Linked DNA regions of Homo sapiens: region 2 is linked to region 1. The links come from fine-mapping of genetic effects on gene expression. Tissue or cell type: whole blood. Region 1 holds a variant in brackets; the other region holds the start of a gene. All regions are shown on one strand. Distances are from middle to middle.

Evidence for each region. PIP is the estimated chance that this variant, and not a neighbour inherited with it, causes the effect.
Region 2: CHMP7 starts here. The variant in region 1 is fine-mapped to the expression of CHMP7 in whole blood (TOPMed, PIP above 0.99).

What each region holds. Positions count from the first base shown.
Region 1 is chr8:23,216,130-23,224,320 of GRCh38, forward strand. The region is part of intron 1 of TNFRSF10A (TNF receptor superfamily member 10a); the gene reads right to left. Among named protein-coding and RNA genes, the nearest start is that of TNFRSF10A, 4.9 kb to the right of the region's middle. RefSeq lists enhancers at 2,091-2,290, 3,321-3,390, 3,571-3,630. The variant C/G (reference allele first, on the strand shown) is at 3,521.
Region 2 is chr8:23,239,512-23,247,683 of GRCh38, forward strand. CHMP7 (charged multivesicular body protein 7) reads left to right here and starts at 4,126. Exons shown (of 11, transcript NM_152272.5): 1 at 4,126-4,333; 2 at 6,745-7,483. The coding sequence starts at 7,185. RefSeq lists enhancers at 3,818-4,319, 6,889-7,138, 7,942-7,991 and a silencer at 7,159-7,668.

The DNA of each region.
Region 1 (8,191 bases):
TTATTAATTTTGTTGATCATTTCTGAGAACCAACTCTTAGCTTGTTGATTCCTTTTATTGTTTGAATTCTATTTCATTGATTTCAGTCTTATTATTTCCTTGTCATGTTGTTACTACCTTTGAGTTTAATTTATACTTATTTTACGGGTAAGTAATGCACACCTCTGAGTCATTGATTTTGATACCATTCTTCTTTTAATCCTTAAGAACTTTACTGAGATATACTTTATATATGATGTAATTCTTTCCTTTAAATATATTTATAGAAGTGTATAACCATCAATAAAATCAATTTTTGAAGATTTTCATCATCATCCCCAAAAGAAACTCCAGGCCAGGCACGGTGGCTCACGCCTGTAATCCCAGCACTTTGGGAGGCCGAGGTGGGTGGATCACGAGGTCAGGAGTTCAAGACCAGCCTGTGCAACATGGTGAAACCCTATCTGTACTAAAAATACAAAAATGAGCCGGGCGTGCTGGCAGGTGCCTATAGTCCCAGCTACTCGGGAGGCTGAGACAGGAGAATCACTTGAACCCGGGAGGCAGAGGTTGCAGTGAACCGGGATCACGCCACTGCATTCCAGCCTAGGCGACAGAGCAAGAAGCCAATTCAAAAAAAAAAAAAAGAAATATTTTGAATTCTCTTTGATTTCATTCGTGAACTATGAGTTATTTATAAGTATGTTGCTTAATATTCACATTTTTGGAGTCCTTCTAGATATTGTTATTGCTTAACACTTTAATTTCATTGAGATCAGAGAACATATTTTATATTATTTTGTTTTAAATGTATTTAGATTTGTTTTATAGTTCACAATGTGGTCTATCTTGGTGAAGTACCATGTTCATAGAAGAGAAGGAATCTCCCATAGATGTTGCATATATGCTCTATAAATGTCAGTTAAGTCAAGGTGGTTGACAATGTTCAGATCTGTTATTTTACTGTTTTCATCTGATCGTTCTATCAGTTGCTGAGAAGGGGGTGACATGATCTCCCTTTAATCCTTTTGAGCGTTGCTTCATTTATTTTAAAGCTCTACTATTAGACATATACACATTTATGATTATTATGCCTTCTGATGAATTCATTTTTTTTTTCTTTTTTGAGACGGAGTCTTGCTCTGTTGCCAGGCTGGAGTGCAGTGGCACAATCTCTGCTCACTGCAACCTCCGAATCCCTGGTTCAAGTGATTCTCCTGCCTCAGCCCTCCCCAGTAGCTGAGATTACAGGCAAATGCCACCACACCCAGCTAATTTTTGTATTTTTAGTAGAGATGGGGTTTCACCATGTTGGTCAGGATGGTCTCGATCTCCTTGACCTCGTGATCTGCCCACCTCAGCCTCCCGAAGTGCTGGGATTACAGGGGTGAGCCACTGCGCCCGGCCTGAATTCACTTCTAACACTAAAAATAGTACCTTAAAAAAAAATCTCTACTAATAGCAAGTGAAAACCTGACAACGAGCTCCTGGTGACTCTGGACCTGGACAGTGCTCAGCCTTCTGTTCAGCTGTTCTTCCCACCTCTCACATGAAACATGTCTATGAAAGGCTGAGGACGTCACATCTGCATTGGTGCGGGCTTCCTAGAACCCATGTTACTCATTCATCCAAGGAGGGCATGTCGGCGCCTGGTAGAAACGCTGTGCAAGGAATCGTGGGGTATCAAGAAAAAGGCACGACCCTCCCTTTCCTTAGGACAGTTCCAGTTCCCAGGGAGATGAGGCACAGCCATCAATAACCCGAGTCACGAGGGGCTGCCCAGGCAGAGGTGACAAATGCCACTGGTGGCAGGGACACCGGTAGACATAGAGGGAAAGGTCCACATAGAGGGAAAAGTCCACACAGGCAGGTTCCTAGGCAGATACGAAGTCAAGGCAGTCGGGGAGGGCAGTCAAAACAAGTGATGCTGGGACACAACTCTGAGGTTTGTGGGCGTCTGATTAAGGGAGATGGAAGGTGAGGTCAGAGAAGTGAGGTTCTCAGTTCACAGATTTGGGCTCATGGGGGTGTGAGGTTGTGTGTGTGTTTGTGTGTGTGAGAGAGAGAGAGGGAGAGAGAGAAAGAGAGCAAGAGAGAGAGGTCTTGTTCCAGGTCTTCTCCTCCATAGACTCTCCTGACCCTGCCCTGCCTCTTCCTGAGATGAGTCATTCACCAGGGGGTTTCCTTGCCTTGTTCCTCTCGGATTAGCATTGTGTTAGGCTGTTTCAGAGGTAAGTTTGATATTCACACTGATTTCCTCTCTCAGGCATACACACCCTAAAAAAATGCCTTATTGATCTTAAAATGAGCAACTCAGAATTGTTCTGAGGTTGGCTGTGGTCGAAAATCTGCTTCCTTTGAGTCTTTCGTGGCTTTTTTATTTCTTTGTTCTTTTGGTATAAAAAGACCCCTGGGTTAAGAAGCAAGCCATCTGTCTTGTAGTCTCGGGCCAGCCTCATGGTCTGGGGGAAGCCACTTCTTCTCTAAACATGTCTATCATTCTGGAAATAAGAGGTGGCTTTACATGACTTCTCAGGTACCCCCAGCAGTGACCCAGCGCTGGGTGAATGCAGGCCTCATGAAAAAGCACCAAATACTCCCCTGGGAAAGGTCAGCAGAACCCAGTGACCCAATCACTGCTGCTGCCCCGAGGGTTGCTCATCCTCCTGCCCAGCCCCTCTACTGAACAAATGTTCTGAGTCTCATGCTGTTTGTCTAAAACAAAGACAATGAGGGTTCCTGTACAGTCTGGTTGTATGAGGATTAAGTGTGTTCATTTACATATGAAGTGCTAAGAACAGAGCTTGGCACACGCAAGTACTGTATTTCAGCACATGCTGTTGTTAGTACAATCATTCCCCTCAATGTTGATTTTAATGAAACCACATCCTCTAAGCCACCAATACCATGACCTGGGGCCTTGCAACTGCTGGAGTCAAGTAGGGAGGGATGGCATCCCTGGAGCCGGCACAGCCTCTCTGGAGGTGGGGGGTGGGGGAGGTGGCCCCCATGCTTCCTGATAGTTATTTAGGTCCCTAGTGACACCTCCTCCACCAGACTGTGGGCTTCAGGGAGCAGGACTGACACAGGGCTCATTTGTCCTCCCACCACCACCAGGCGCAGACATTCTCAGAGTAAAGTGCTCATCACCTACTTCCTGGGTGAGTGACTTTCCCTCCAAGCCCATGAGGTGAGCCCAGTGGTGGCCTCAGCTCACCGCCTCAGGTCACAGGTTCCAGGCTACAGCACAGGGATGGGACCCCGAAGAGTCCTGTGGACTCTGCTAAGGAACCCTAGGAGCTCCCAGAGGCCAAGTGCAGGGCAGAGATGTGGAGAAGCAGCTGCTCAGAGGACTTTAGCCCTGCAGAAGCCAAAACACGGCTGCTATTATACAGAAGGGGAGACCAAAAATGCTACAGACATGGCTCCGGCAGATTATTTTTGCCACCATCGAAGTGCTGAAACCACACTGTTAAGGAGAAAATCTTAAAAGCAGCCAGAGAACAAAGATCTCCTCCCCACAGACAAGCCAGGTGAGAGG[C/G]GCAGCCTAAGCCCTGAAAAACCACACAGGAAGAGGCAGCGGCAGAGGCCCCACCCCAGCCGGTGCTGCTCCCCTCTCCTCTTCATCAGGACTGTCCCCGCTCCCTCCACCCAGTGCTGAGACCAACAGCAGACATGGGGGCGAGGGTGTGATGCACTTAACATGACCTAAGCCACACAAATATATTACCAACAAACTCCAATGACTTAACTTTGAGATTCTCTTCATCTAAGTTTTTAAAGTGGTCATTCCTAGTTTCTCTCATTCCTACCAGTGCTCTGGACAGACTTGCCTGTGGCCAGGTGCACACACGTTCCCCCTCTGAGCTGCACACACTTTCCCTCTCTGAGCTTTGGTCCTCTCCTCTGTAAAATGTGATGATTCACATCCCCTCCTGGCCACAGGCGAGTGTCTGAGGTGCCGAGTGCACCCTGCTCTTCCCTACAAAGCAGACCCTTTCTCCTTTCCCCATTATCACAGATACCTGCCTGGGAATCCGGAAGAGGCCCTTCCCAGTCCAACAGGCAGCTGCTATTATCAAGCAGGCCAGGTCCCAAATGCTGGGGACTTCCTCCTCCTAAATCTCATTTTCTCCCCAGACAAAATGAGAGCAACAATCCCCACATCCCTGGGTTAGGAAAATACCCTGAATGAAGATGTGCAGTCTCTGGCTGGGCTGGCCCAATCTCTATGCCAGGTCCTTCCACCTCACCTCTCTCTTTAGCAAAGTAGAAATTGAGAAATTCTGAAGGCTCTGAAGCTTAGACACTCAGGCTATCAAAGAGCCCAGAGATTGGAGGCTGAAGACTGCCAGGGTTGGCCGTGCTCCTCTTCAGCTGTGACTCTGCTGTGGCCCCAGCTCCTTCCTATAAACTAGGCAGATATAAAATCTGCAGCGGCCCTTTATAAACCACAGTGGTCTGTGTTGGCAGATGTGTGCTGCCGTGTAGGAGGACAAATCACATGCTCAGGGCTGGTGTCAGTCACTCATGACTCTGGATCCCCAGGGCACCTGTCCTAATGAACTTGAAAGAGAACTGAAGGCACTGGCATTTTTCCAGACTAAGTGACACCAACTGCCCAACAGCACAGGCTCAGGGCATGGCACTGTCCCCATCTCCGACCTGGAAGCTAAAGCCTTGCTGCCCTGTCACTCCTGGATACAGGACAGAGGACCAGAACTGGGACTGTTGCCTCTCAGTAGGGGCTGGGTGAGCAGCCATCTGCAGCCACATGGATGGAGACCTTTCCTGCTCACTCTTCAAACTGCAACCAGTGCCGGGTGCCCACCAGAAGGACAACTGGAAGGAAACGTGGCAGGTAAGCCAGGCTGTGGCCCTGCAGTGACATCTTTGTCCTAACTTGAAGTCTGGCTCCTCTGTTCCTCCACGGCCCCTCCCCATGGCGCTCCACCCCATTCCTTAGAACCTTCTGCCCCAAGCTCAGAGAGCCAGTATGGAGGTGCAGGTGGGAGCAGGTGCAGCCTCTGCTGGGTAGAGGACAGGTGCTCTGGGGATCCAGAGTCCTGAGTGACTGACACCAGCCCTGAGCATGTGATTTGTCCTCCCACACGACAGCACACATCTGCCAACACAGACCACTGTGGTTTACACAGGGCCGCTGCAGACTTTTATATCCACCTAGTTTATAGGAAGGAGCTGGGGCCACAGCAGAGTCACAGAGCTGAAGAGGAGCACGGCCAACCCTGGCTGTCTTCAGCCTCCAATCTCTGGGCTCTGATAGCCTGAGTGTCTAAGCTTCAGAGCCATCAGAATTTCTCATTTCCTACTTTGATAAAGAGAGAGACGAGACGAGGTGGAAGGACCTGGCACAGAGATTGGGCCAGTCCAGCATTGACAGAGCCAGGACCTGGGGTGAGAAACTGAGCTCAGCTCCAGGCTCATCTGATGTCATCCTGACAGTCTGAGGACAGAGACATTATCTCCATTCACAGGCATGGCGGGTGGCAGGAACTGGCCCCAGCCGACCACAGTTTCCTAAGTGCAGAGGTGCGACTGCAGTCTTCCCTGCTCCCTCCCCAACGGTCTAATCTGGAGTCTCTAGGTCATCTACTCCCAGTCTCAAAAAATTCCTGGATCCTTGAAAATCTCTAATAACACTGAAACAAAAAATACAACATTGAGGTCTATCATTTTTTACCTCTTAGAGTAGCAAAGAATGAAAGTTCCATGTAGTAAGGGTGCAGGGACACGGGCACGCTTGTGTATTCTTTTTTTTTTTTCTTGAAACGGAGTCTCGCTCAGTCGCCCAGGCTGGAGTGCAGTGGCGAGATCTCGGCTCACTGCAAGCTCTGCCTCCCGGGTTCACGCCATTCTCCTGCCTCAGCCTCCCGAGTAGCTGGGACTACAGGCGCCCGCCACCGTGCCTGGCTAATTTTTTTCAATTTTTAGTAGAGACGGGGTTTCACCGTGTTAGCCAGGATGGTCTGGATCTCCTGACCTCGTGATCCACCTGTCTCGGCCTCCCAAAGTGCTGGGATTACAGGCGTTAGCCACCGCACCCGGCCACACTTTTGTATTCTTGGTGTGAGAGTAAAACTGGCACAATCTTCTCCCGAAGTACAATTTAGCAATATCCAAACAAAATTCTACATTGATGAGCTCATGTACCTAAAAATTCCTCTTCTAAAGGGCTGCCCGATACTTCAGGGAACATTGACATATGGACATATGACACATACAAGGGTTCTCACTACAATGCTGCTGGAATTAGAAAAAACAAAAGCAGGACATAATGTTAACAATTGCCCATGGGATGGAAGATTAAAATTAACTGTGGTTCACGCCATGTGTTTCACCCATGCACTAAATATTATGATGCTGTTAAAAAGAATGAGATACTTGCATGTACTGATAGAAAACATCCAATGCGATTTGTTCTTCAGTCAGAATTTTAAAAGTTAAGGTGCCTATAAATGCACAGGAAGAAGGCTGAGGGATGGTGGGATGAGAGGGTCCTGTGGGATGGCAGAAGGCCTTGGTGTCTGCTACGGGTCCTTTGTCCCTGCCAGGGCTCACGTTGAAATCTGAACCGTAATGTAGCTGGTGGGGCCTGTTGGGGTTTGGGGTGGATCCCTCATGAAAGGCTTGGTGCCATAACCGCCCCCTCCCACATTCCCCCAGGAGTTGTCAATCTTAGTTCCCCATGACACCTGGTTGTTAGAATGAACCTGGCCCCTCCCCGTCTCCCTTCCGGATCTCATCCCCCTCCTCCTGCCATCCTCCCCACCCCTTCCCCTGATGGGCAGAATCCAGCTGTCCTTCCCCTTCACCACCAGTGGAAGTTTCCTGAGGCCTCACCAGAGGCAGATGCTGGTGGCATGCTTCTTGTACAGCCTGCAGAACCATGTGCCAAATAAGCCTCTTTTAAAATTATCCAGCGTCAAGTTTTCTTTTTTATTTTTTTTCTTTTCCGAAACGGAGTCTCCCTCTGTCGCCCAGGCTGGAGTGCAGTGGCGTGGTCTCGGCTCACTGGAAGCTCCGCCTCCCAGGTTCACGCCATTCTCCCGCCTCAGCCTCCCGAGTAGCTGGGACTACAGGCGGCCACCACCACGCCTGGCTAATTTTTTGTATTTTTAATAGAGACGGGGTTTCACCGTGTTGGCCAGGATCGTCTCGATCTCCTGACCTCGTGATCCGCCCGCCTCGGCCTCCCAGAGTGCTGGGATTACAGGCGTGAGCCACCGCGCCTGGCCTCAAGTATTCTTTTATAGCCACACCAACGGACTGTGACATTTCCAAAACCACCAAATTCAGATGTTTCACCTTGTCTATACAGGTGAGCCCTACATCCACCTGGAATCGCACTAGCCTGTCAAAAAGAAAGCCATTTAATAAGCGTATTAAAAATAAGAGTCAAACGTGGGTTCCACCTAACATAAACTGACGTTTAAAACATAAATTCTGTAATTATTTGGAGATTTCAAAATGCTATTGGATTCCTGGATTTTGTTTAGTTTGTTAAACAAAAACACGTAAAATTTCCTGACACTTGTAAGACTGGTTTATCCTTCAGGTACTTAGCTTTCGTTTTGTTTTTCCTTAACATAGAAGGAATCTGGATGAGAACAATTGGTAGAGCCTTAATGAACTTGAAAGAGAACTGAAGGCATTGGCATTTTTCCAGACTGAGTGATTGCTTTCACAGGAAACGCTGCCTCCTGAAGGAAGGGCGTGCCCCGCTCCTGGCTGCCTGCCTCGTGGTGGTCAATTCGCTGCCCTGTACCTGTTGATGCGCAAGAAAGTGGCTGGAAGGAAACTGCTGCCGGTGTGCTCAGTGGACTCGAAACGGAAGACAACGAGCAGAGGAGAGAAAGTTACTTTTTCCTGCCGGGCTGCGTGTTTAACCAATTTGTCTAAGAAAAGAAGGATGGAGGGCCGGGCGCGGTGGCTCACGCCTGTAATCCCAGCACTTTGGGAGGCCGAGGCGGGCGGATTTGGCTAACACAGTGAAACCCCGTGACTACTAAAAATACAAAAAATTAGCCGGGCGTGGTGGCAGGAGCCTGTACTCCCAGCTACTCGGGAGGCTGAGGCAGGAGAATCGCTTGAACCAGGAAGGCGGAGCTTGCAGTGAGCCGAGATCGCGCCACTACACTCCAGCCTGGGCGACAGAGAGAGACTCCGTTTCAAAAAAAAAAAAAAAAAAAAA
Region 2 (8,172 bases), 23 kb after region 1:
TGCTTCAAGTTGTCCTACCTTTCCAGACCAAACCAATGTACTTCTTACATATATTGATTGATATCTCATGTCTCCCTAAAATGTGTAAAACAAAGCTGTGCCCTGACCTCCTTGGGCACATGTCCTCAGGCCTTCCTGAGTCTGTGTCATGAGCACACGTCTTCAGCTTGGCAAAATAAACCTTTTTTTTTTTTTTTTTGAGATGGAGTCTTGCTCTGTTGCCCAGGCTGGAGTGCAGTGATGTGATCTCCGCTCACTGCAAGCTCTGCCTCCCAGGTTCACGCCATTCTCCTGCCTCAGCCTCCCGAGTAGCTGGGACTACAGGCACCTGCCACCATGCCCGGCTAATTTTTTGTATTTTTAGTAGAGACGTGGTTTCACCGTCTTAGCCAGGATGGTCTCGATCTCCTGACCTGGTGATCTGCCCACCTTGGCCTCCCAAAGTGCTGGGATTACAGGCGTGAGCCACCGCGCCCGGCCAGCAAAATAAACTTTCTAAATTAACTGAGACCCGTCTCAGATATTCTGGGCCCATATTTAATAACCATAAAGGGATTCTGAGTGGAATGCTCCCCACCTCTGACAAATCTAGCCTCTGACAAGCTAGATTTGACAAGCACCTATTGGTGCTTGGTACCAGCATGAGCTTACTTTATGGCTCAAACCTATGGGACAATTTGCTGAGGTCTGAGAGCAACCCACCCCTCACCCCTCCGCCCCACCAAGAGAATTACTATCTTCCCAAATTTGGTTGAAATCTAAAGTTTATTTTGCTATACAACTTTTTTTTTTTGGAGTTTTACTTGCTTCCAACAAGAAAGGCAAGTTTTCCTGCTTCCATGATGATGGAAGATAGGTAACTCCTTTATGGAGTTTGAGCTCACTTCCAACAGGGAAGGTGAGTTTGTTGTTGTTGTTGTTGTTGTTGTTGTTGTTTTGTTTGTTTTTCTGCTTCTAGGATGGTAGAGAGTGGTCTACAGCCTGAGATCCATTCCTAGATAAGCAACTGAATTGGGGTTTATCTTGGCTAAAGTTAAGATTAAAAACCAGCTGGTCTTTATTTCTCCTTACCATTACAGTGCTCAGGAATTATGTTAAGTTGTGAGATTGTTTGTTTTGCTTAACTTTTTTGTTGTTGTTGATGTTTATTTGTTTCTGTTTTTGTTGTTTCAGTCTTTCTCCCGTTGGGTTTGACCAACTCTGTCCAACTCAATCAAATCCGAAGGAAAGTTCCAAATTATGAGGAACAAGGCCTCTAAAGTGGCTAAATTCCCATACACAAAAAAAGGTGGTATAGTGAGGGGAGAAAAACGGCCAACAAAAGAAAAAAAATAAATAAAAACTTTTTTTTTTTTTTTTGAGACGGAGTCGCTCTCTGTCGCCCGGGCTGGAGTGCAGTGGCGCGATCTCGGCTCACTGCAAGCTCTGCCTCCCGGGTTCACGCCATTCTCCTGCCTCAGCCTCCCGAGTAGCTGGGACTAAGGCACCCGCCACTACGCCTGGCTAATTTTTTTGTATTTTTTGGTAGAGACGGGGTTTCACCGTGTTAGCCAGGATGGTCTGGATCTCCTGACCTGGTGATCTGCCTGCCTCGGCCTCCCAAAGTGCTGGGATTACTGGCTTGAGCCACCGCACCCGGCCGGCAAGAAAAATGTTTTATTTTTATTACTTAAGGGGTTTTATTTACATAACAAAGCCTCCTTTTTGCTAACCAGGCCAAACTGAAAGCAATGGCTGTCCCCCTACTCTGCAGTTCAATAGCTAAGGTTCTGCCTTTTTTTTTCTCCTGTCTTCATGACAGCCTAAGTTTGGTTCCTAAATCAAGTCCTTTCTGGTTTGATAGTTGGTACTTCTGCTTTTTTTTTTTTTTTTTTTTTTTTTTTGAGACAGAGTTCCGTTCTTGTTGCCCAGGCTGGAGTCCAATGGCGTGGTCTCAGCTCACCGTAACCTCCGCCTCCCGGGTTCAAGCAATTCTCCTGCCTCAGCCTCCCGAGTAGCTGGGATTATAGGCATGTGCCTTTTGAATTTCTTAGTAGAGATGGGGTTTCTCCATGTTGGTCAAGCTGGTCTCGAACTCCTGAGCTCAGGTGATCCACCAGCGTCGGCCTCCCAAAGTGCTGGGATTACAGGTGTGAGCCACCGCGCCGGACCAATACTTGGTACTTCTGAAATAGCAGCAATTTGTCCTAGCTGAAATATAATAATAAAATTTTGAATTTTTTTTTTTTGAGACAGAGTCTTGCTCTGTCGCCAGGCTGGAGTGCAGTGGCACGATCTTGGCTCACTGCAAACTCTGCCTCCCGGGTTCAAGCGATTCTCCTGCCTCAGCCTCCTGAGTAGCTGGGACTACAGGCGCGTGCCACCACACTCGGCTAATTTTTGTATTTTTAGTGGAGACGGGGTTTCACCATGTTAGCCAGGATGGTCTCCATCTCCTGACCTCATGATCCGCCCGCCTGGGCCTCCCAAAGTCCTGGGATTACAGGCATGAGCCACTGCACCCAGCCCAAGATTTTTTATTTTTAAAGACACTCAATAGTTAAAAGTCAACTTAATTAAAAGCTAATATTTAAAATGTATGTGTATGTGTATGTGTGCATAAGTGCATGTTCATATTTAAAAGGCCTTCATGGTTTTGTTTTTGTTTTTCTCTGCTAGGACCTTGTCTTTTTTTGAGCAAAAACTTTTTTTGTTCTCAATTGACTCAATTCTGTTTCCACTCGATTTTTTTTTTTTTTTTTACTAAAATAGTTATTGCAACAGAGGCTACTCTTGGGTTTTTAAGAAAGAGTATAGTTTAGACACTTAGAAATGCTTTGTTTACAAAAATGTTTTAAGTGCACTGTAAAAGCATCATGTGGTCTAGCCTCATAATAATTCTCCCTTTTTGGAGACCCAGGATTCAGTGTGGGCTCTGCCCAGAGCTCAGAGATCCAGTTAAAAAAGAATTGGTAGTCCCTATCTAAATAACAGTGGTCTCCTTATACAATCCAGTGATAAATTTCTATAATTTTATGTTCAATTGGCAATTAAATCTGTTTTAATTTCCCTCTAGCTCACAGAATTTCTCTTCAGACCTTATAATGTAAATTTTGCTATCTGACTTTCACCTGAGTTGTTTCCTTTAATATGCAAATTTAAGACTATTTAGCTGACTACTGCCTAGCACTGTGAAACAGGTTATCAAGAATCTGAAAGTCTAAGATAAAGAAAAAAGGTTTTTATGAATCTGTAAGATGTACTTCTTCTATCAGCATGCCTAATACATCTATGTATTTATATGTTATGTATACAATGTTGCACTCCTGAAAATATATCAAAGAGCTCTAATTAATTGTCTTAAAAAATAAAAGCATTTACATCAAATACTTTATTAGAAAAAGGAAAGACTAGTCAAATGCTTTTTCAAGTTATGTGACTTAAGTAAAATCTTTAATAAATAAGCTATCTTTAAAATTATTGGTAAAGTAATATTAGAAATGTCTTAGGAATTGCCAGCATACATTTTTATTTGCGTTTATTAATCAAGCAATTTCATACTTAACCCTGCCAAATACTATTAGGTGTCAAAATTTGGCACAGGCTATAAACCCAGCCCAAGACAGAATGATCTCTGCTCGTGTAACCATTAATAAATAAGACATTGATACTGGTTTAATGAAAATAGCTACATCTTGATTTAGTAAAATTACCATAACTTCTAATCTTGTGGCAGTCTAGGCAGTCTAGTCCACAGGCAGTAAGGAGTTTTGTTTTGGGAAAGGACTGTTATACTTTGTTTCAAAGTTAAACTATAAGTAAACTTGCATGGGAAGAGAATGTTTAATTTTGTGAAAAACGACCAAACTGTCTTCCAAAGTAGCTCTTAGAGACAACCTGTCCACAGAAGAACGCAGCAAGCCCCCTCCCCTAAATGCCCTGCAGCTTATTTCTTCTGAGATGCTGCCCCTACTTCACGTTACCAGAACTTAGGTACAGCTGTATCCACCCCCAGGCCAAACCACATCCTGGTACTCTAAGCCAGGTGGGGCAAGAAGTGACAAACAACTGCAGGATGTAGACTAACCTCAGAAAGCCCCTAGGCCCTCAAAGCCCTATATAAGTCCCTCACCTTAAACACCCTGGGCTGCCTCCTCTGACTGTTATGCAGCAGGCCGGCAGGTCAATAAACTTGCTTGCCTGACTTTGAGTATACTCGTCTTTTCTCTTGGCCAACCTTACGGTAGCTGTACCAGTTTGCATTTCCACCAGCAATGAATGAGAGTTCCTGTTGCTCTGCATCCTCACCAGCATTTGGTGTGGTCAGTATTTTGGATTTTCACCATTCTAATAGGTGTGTAGTAGTATGCTATTCTTGTCTAATTTGCTGTTCCCCAATGACATATGATGTTGGGCATATTATCATATACTTATTTGCCGTTGGTAGATCTTCTTTGGTGAGAGGTCTGCTCAGATCTTTTATCCATGTTTTAACTGGGTTATTCTTTTTCTTTTTTTTTTGAGTCTTAAGAGTTCCTCGTGTGTTTTGGATAACAGTCCTTTATCAGAGATGTCTTTTGCAAATAGTTTCTACCAGTCTGTGGCTTATCTTCACATTCTCTTCACAGTGTCTTTCAGAAAGCAAATAATAATAATAATAATAATTACGTCTAATTTATCAATTATTTCTTTCATGGATTATGCTTTTTGTGTTGTATCTAAAAAGTAATCATGATGCCCAAGGTCATCTAGATGTTTTGTCTTCTAGGAGTTTTATTGTTTTGTGTTTTTACATTTAAGTCCATGATCCATTTGAGCTGGCTTTTGTGAATGGTGTAAGATCTGTACCTGGATTTGTTTTTGTTTTTGCATGTAGGTGTACAGTTGTTCCAGTGCTCATTGTTGAAAAGACTCTTTGAACCATTGTATTGCCTTTCTTTTTTCGAAAGGTCAGTTGACTGTATTTACATGTGCCTATTTCTGGGATTCCTATTCTGTTCCATTTATCTATTTGTTTATTCTTTAACTAATACCACACTATCTTGATTACTGTTGATTTATAGTAATTCTTGAAGTTGGGTTGTATCCGTCCTCTGACTTATTTGTTCAATATTGTGTTGGCTCTTCTGGGTCTTTTGCCTTTCCACATAAACTTTAGAATTAGTTTGTTGATATCCACAAAATAACTAGCCATGATTTTCACTGGGATTTCACTGGATCTACAGATCAATTTGGGAAGAATTGATATCTTGATAATATTGAGTTTTCCTGTCCATGAATATAAAATGCCTCTGTATTTATTTAGTCCTTCATAGATTTCTTTCATCAGAATTTTGTAGTTTTCCTTATGTAGAATTTGTACATACCGTGTTAGATTTATACCTAAGTTTTATAGGGGGGTGCTAATGTAAATGGTATTGCATTTTTAATTTCATATTCCACTTGATCATTATAGGTATATGGGAATTGACTTTTATACATTAACTTTGTATCTGCAATCTTGTTCTCATTGCCTCTTAGTTCCAGGACATCGATTTGGCAATTCTTTCATAATTTTCTGCATGGATAATTATGTCTTCTATAAAGACAGACCATTTTATTTCTTCCTCTTCAGTCTGTACAACTTTTATTTCTTTTTCTTGGCTAACTGTGTTAGCTAGGATTTCCCGTACAGTGTTGACTAGGAATGGTGTGAGCAGACATTCTTGTGTTATTCCTGATTCCACTGGAAAACGATCTAGGTTTTCACCATTAATTCTTATGTTGGCTGTAAGGTTCCTGTTTATGTTCTTTATCAAGTGGAGGATGTGTCCCTCTATTCCTAGAGTGCCGAGACTTTTTATCATGAGCTGGTGTTGGATTTTGTCAAATGCTTTTTCTGCATCTAGCAATATGATCATATGATTTTTCTTTAGTCTGTTGGTGGATTATATTAATTGATTTTTGAACATTGAACTAGCCTTGCCTAGCTGTAATAAATTCCGCTTTAACCTGGTGTACAATTCTTTTGATACATTGTGGGTTTCAATTTGCTAACATTCTATTGATGATTTTTGCATCTATATTCACAAGATATATTGTTTTGTGTTTTTTCTTTCTTGTAATGTCTTTGTGTGGTTTTGGCGTTAGGGTAATCCTTGCCTCATAGGATCAGTTGGGAAGTATTCCTTTTGTTTCTATCTTATAAAAGAGATGGCACAGAACTGGTACAACTTTTTTCTTAAATATTTGGTAGAACTTATCAAATGAAACCATCTGGGCCTAATGCTTTCTGTGTGGATGTTGTTAATTATTGATTCAATTAATTAGATATAAACATATTCAAGTGGTCTGTTTCCTCTTGTGTGTTTTGGCAGAGTGTGCTTTCAAGAAATGTGTCCATTTCGTCTAGGTTATCAAATTTGTGGACATACAGTTATTCATAGTATTCCTTTATTATCATTTTCATGCCCATGGGATCTGCAGTAATGTCCCTTATTTCATTTCTGATATTGAGTATTTGTTTTTTCTCTTTGTTAGCCAGGCTAGAGGTTAATCAATTTCATTGACCTTTTCAAAAAATCAGCTTTAGGTTTTGTTGATAATCTTTTGAGTTTGTTTTCAATTTCATTGATTTCTGCTCTTTTTATTATTTTTTCTCTTCTGTTTAATTTGATCTTAATTTGTTCTTCTTTTATAGATTCCCAAGGTGGAATCTTAGGTTATTTTAGATCTTTCTTCTTTTCTGGTTTGTGCATTCATTGATATAAATTTCCCTCTATACAGAGATTCACGGATCCATCCGGGTGGTCCGGGCACCACTGGCGCCCCTCTGCGGCTATTCCCCAGTTCCATTTTCTGAAGCCACAGGTCAGAAGCCGCTGTACAACGCTTTGCCGAACTCCAGAATCTTGAAGGAGACGTAAGGTGCAGCCACCTGCCGCGCAGGCGCAAGCCTTTCTTTCGGCACAAAGACCGTGGGAGGAGGGGTCGGCGCAAGCGCTCGGTGTCTCTCTGAAAAGAACTTCATCATACTGCCTCCTGGCTGACGGAGCGCAGCGCAACGCATGCGCCTTGAAGACTTATGGAACTTATTTCACGCTCAGGGCGGCGGTGACGTGTGAACGAGAAGGAGGTGGTCAAGGAACGGAAGCCGGGAGGGAACGAGGGCGGAAGCGGACCAGGGCCAGGCTTGTGTTCGCAGCCTTGCCGGGGCTGGGGTTCCGATGTGGTCCCCGGAGCGGGAGGCCGAGGCCCCAGCCGGGGGAGACCCGGCGGGCCTTCTGCCCCCCGAGTGGGAGGAGGACGAGGAGCGCATGTCCTTCCTGTTCTCCGCTTTCAAGAGGAGTCGCGAGGTGAACAGCACCGACTGGGACAGCAAGATGGGCTTCTGGGCGCCGTTGGTGCTGAGCCACAGCCGCCGCCAGGGGGTGGTGCGCCTGCGTCTGCGGGACTTGCAGGAGGCCTTTCAGCGCAAGGGGAGCGTCCCGCTGGGGCTGGCCACGGTGCTGCAGGACCTGCTGCGGTGAGGGGCGGGCTGGGGCCAGGGCCGCGAGGGCGGGCGGGGGCAGCTCTCGGAGGGCCGGGCCCTGGTCCTGTTCTCTGCACAGCGCACTGCGCCCAGCCCAGTGTCTGGCCCAGAGAAGGCATCCAGTGTGTGTTCAGAAGGCGAAGAAGGAAAATAAGGAGGCTGGGCTAGGGAGGCTTGGAGGGAGAGGAAGAGGGGATCTGGGGGAAGATTGGGGGGCGGGGATAGTCCGATTAGACGAGTTCCAGAGAAGCCAGCCTAACAGAGGTGACAGTAATTTGCCTGGACTGGGACCCCGTTATGTTGTTGTTTCCTAAGGGCCTCCAAATTTGAATGGCCCGTGGAGCAGAAGGTCTAAGAGATAGGATTCATTAACCTAGGGAAGGTTAGAGCTAAAAAGCGGGCATTCGTGGGGAAGAGGCCTGTAGGCATCTTGCCAACAACCCCTGGCACAGCTCATTCGTCTGGCTTGTCCTTGGCACAGGCTTTTTGGAGCAGAGAGGACGTGAAGGAGAATGAGGGCTTTGCTGAGTATCTGAGTGCCCTTAAAAGGTCTGTAGGAGATACGTGTGCGACAGGTGCAGTTTTGGCGGTATCTGAGGGTAACATTGATAACTAATACATGTACAGTACTTCCCAGCATGCAGATACTTTGCATGCACCATTTGACCCACTCAGCGGTCTTG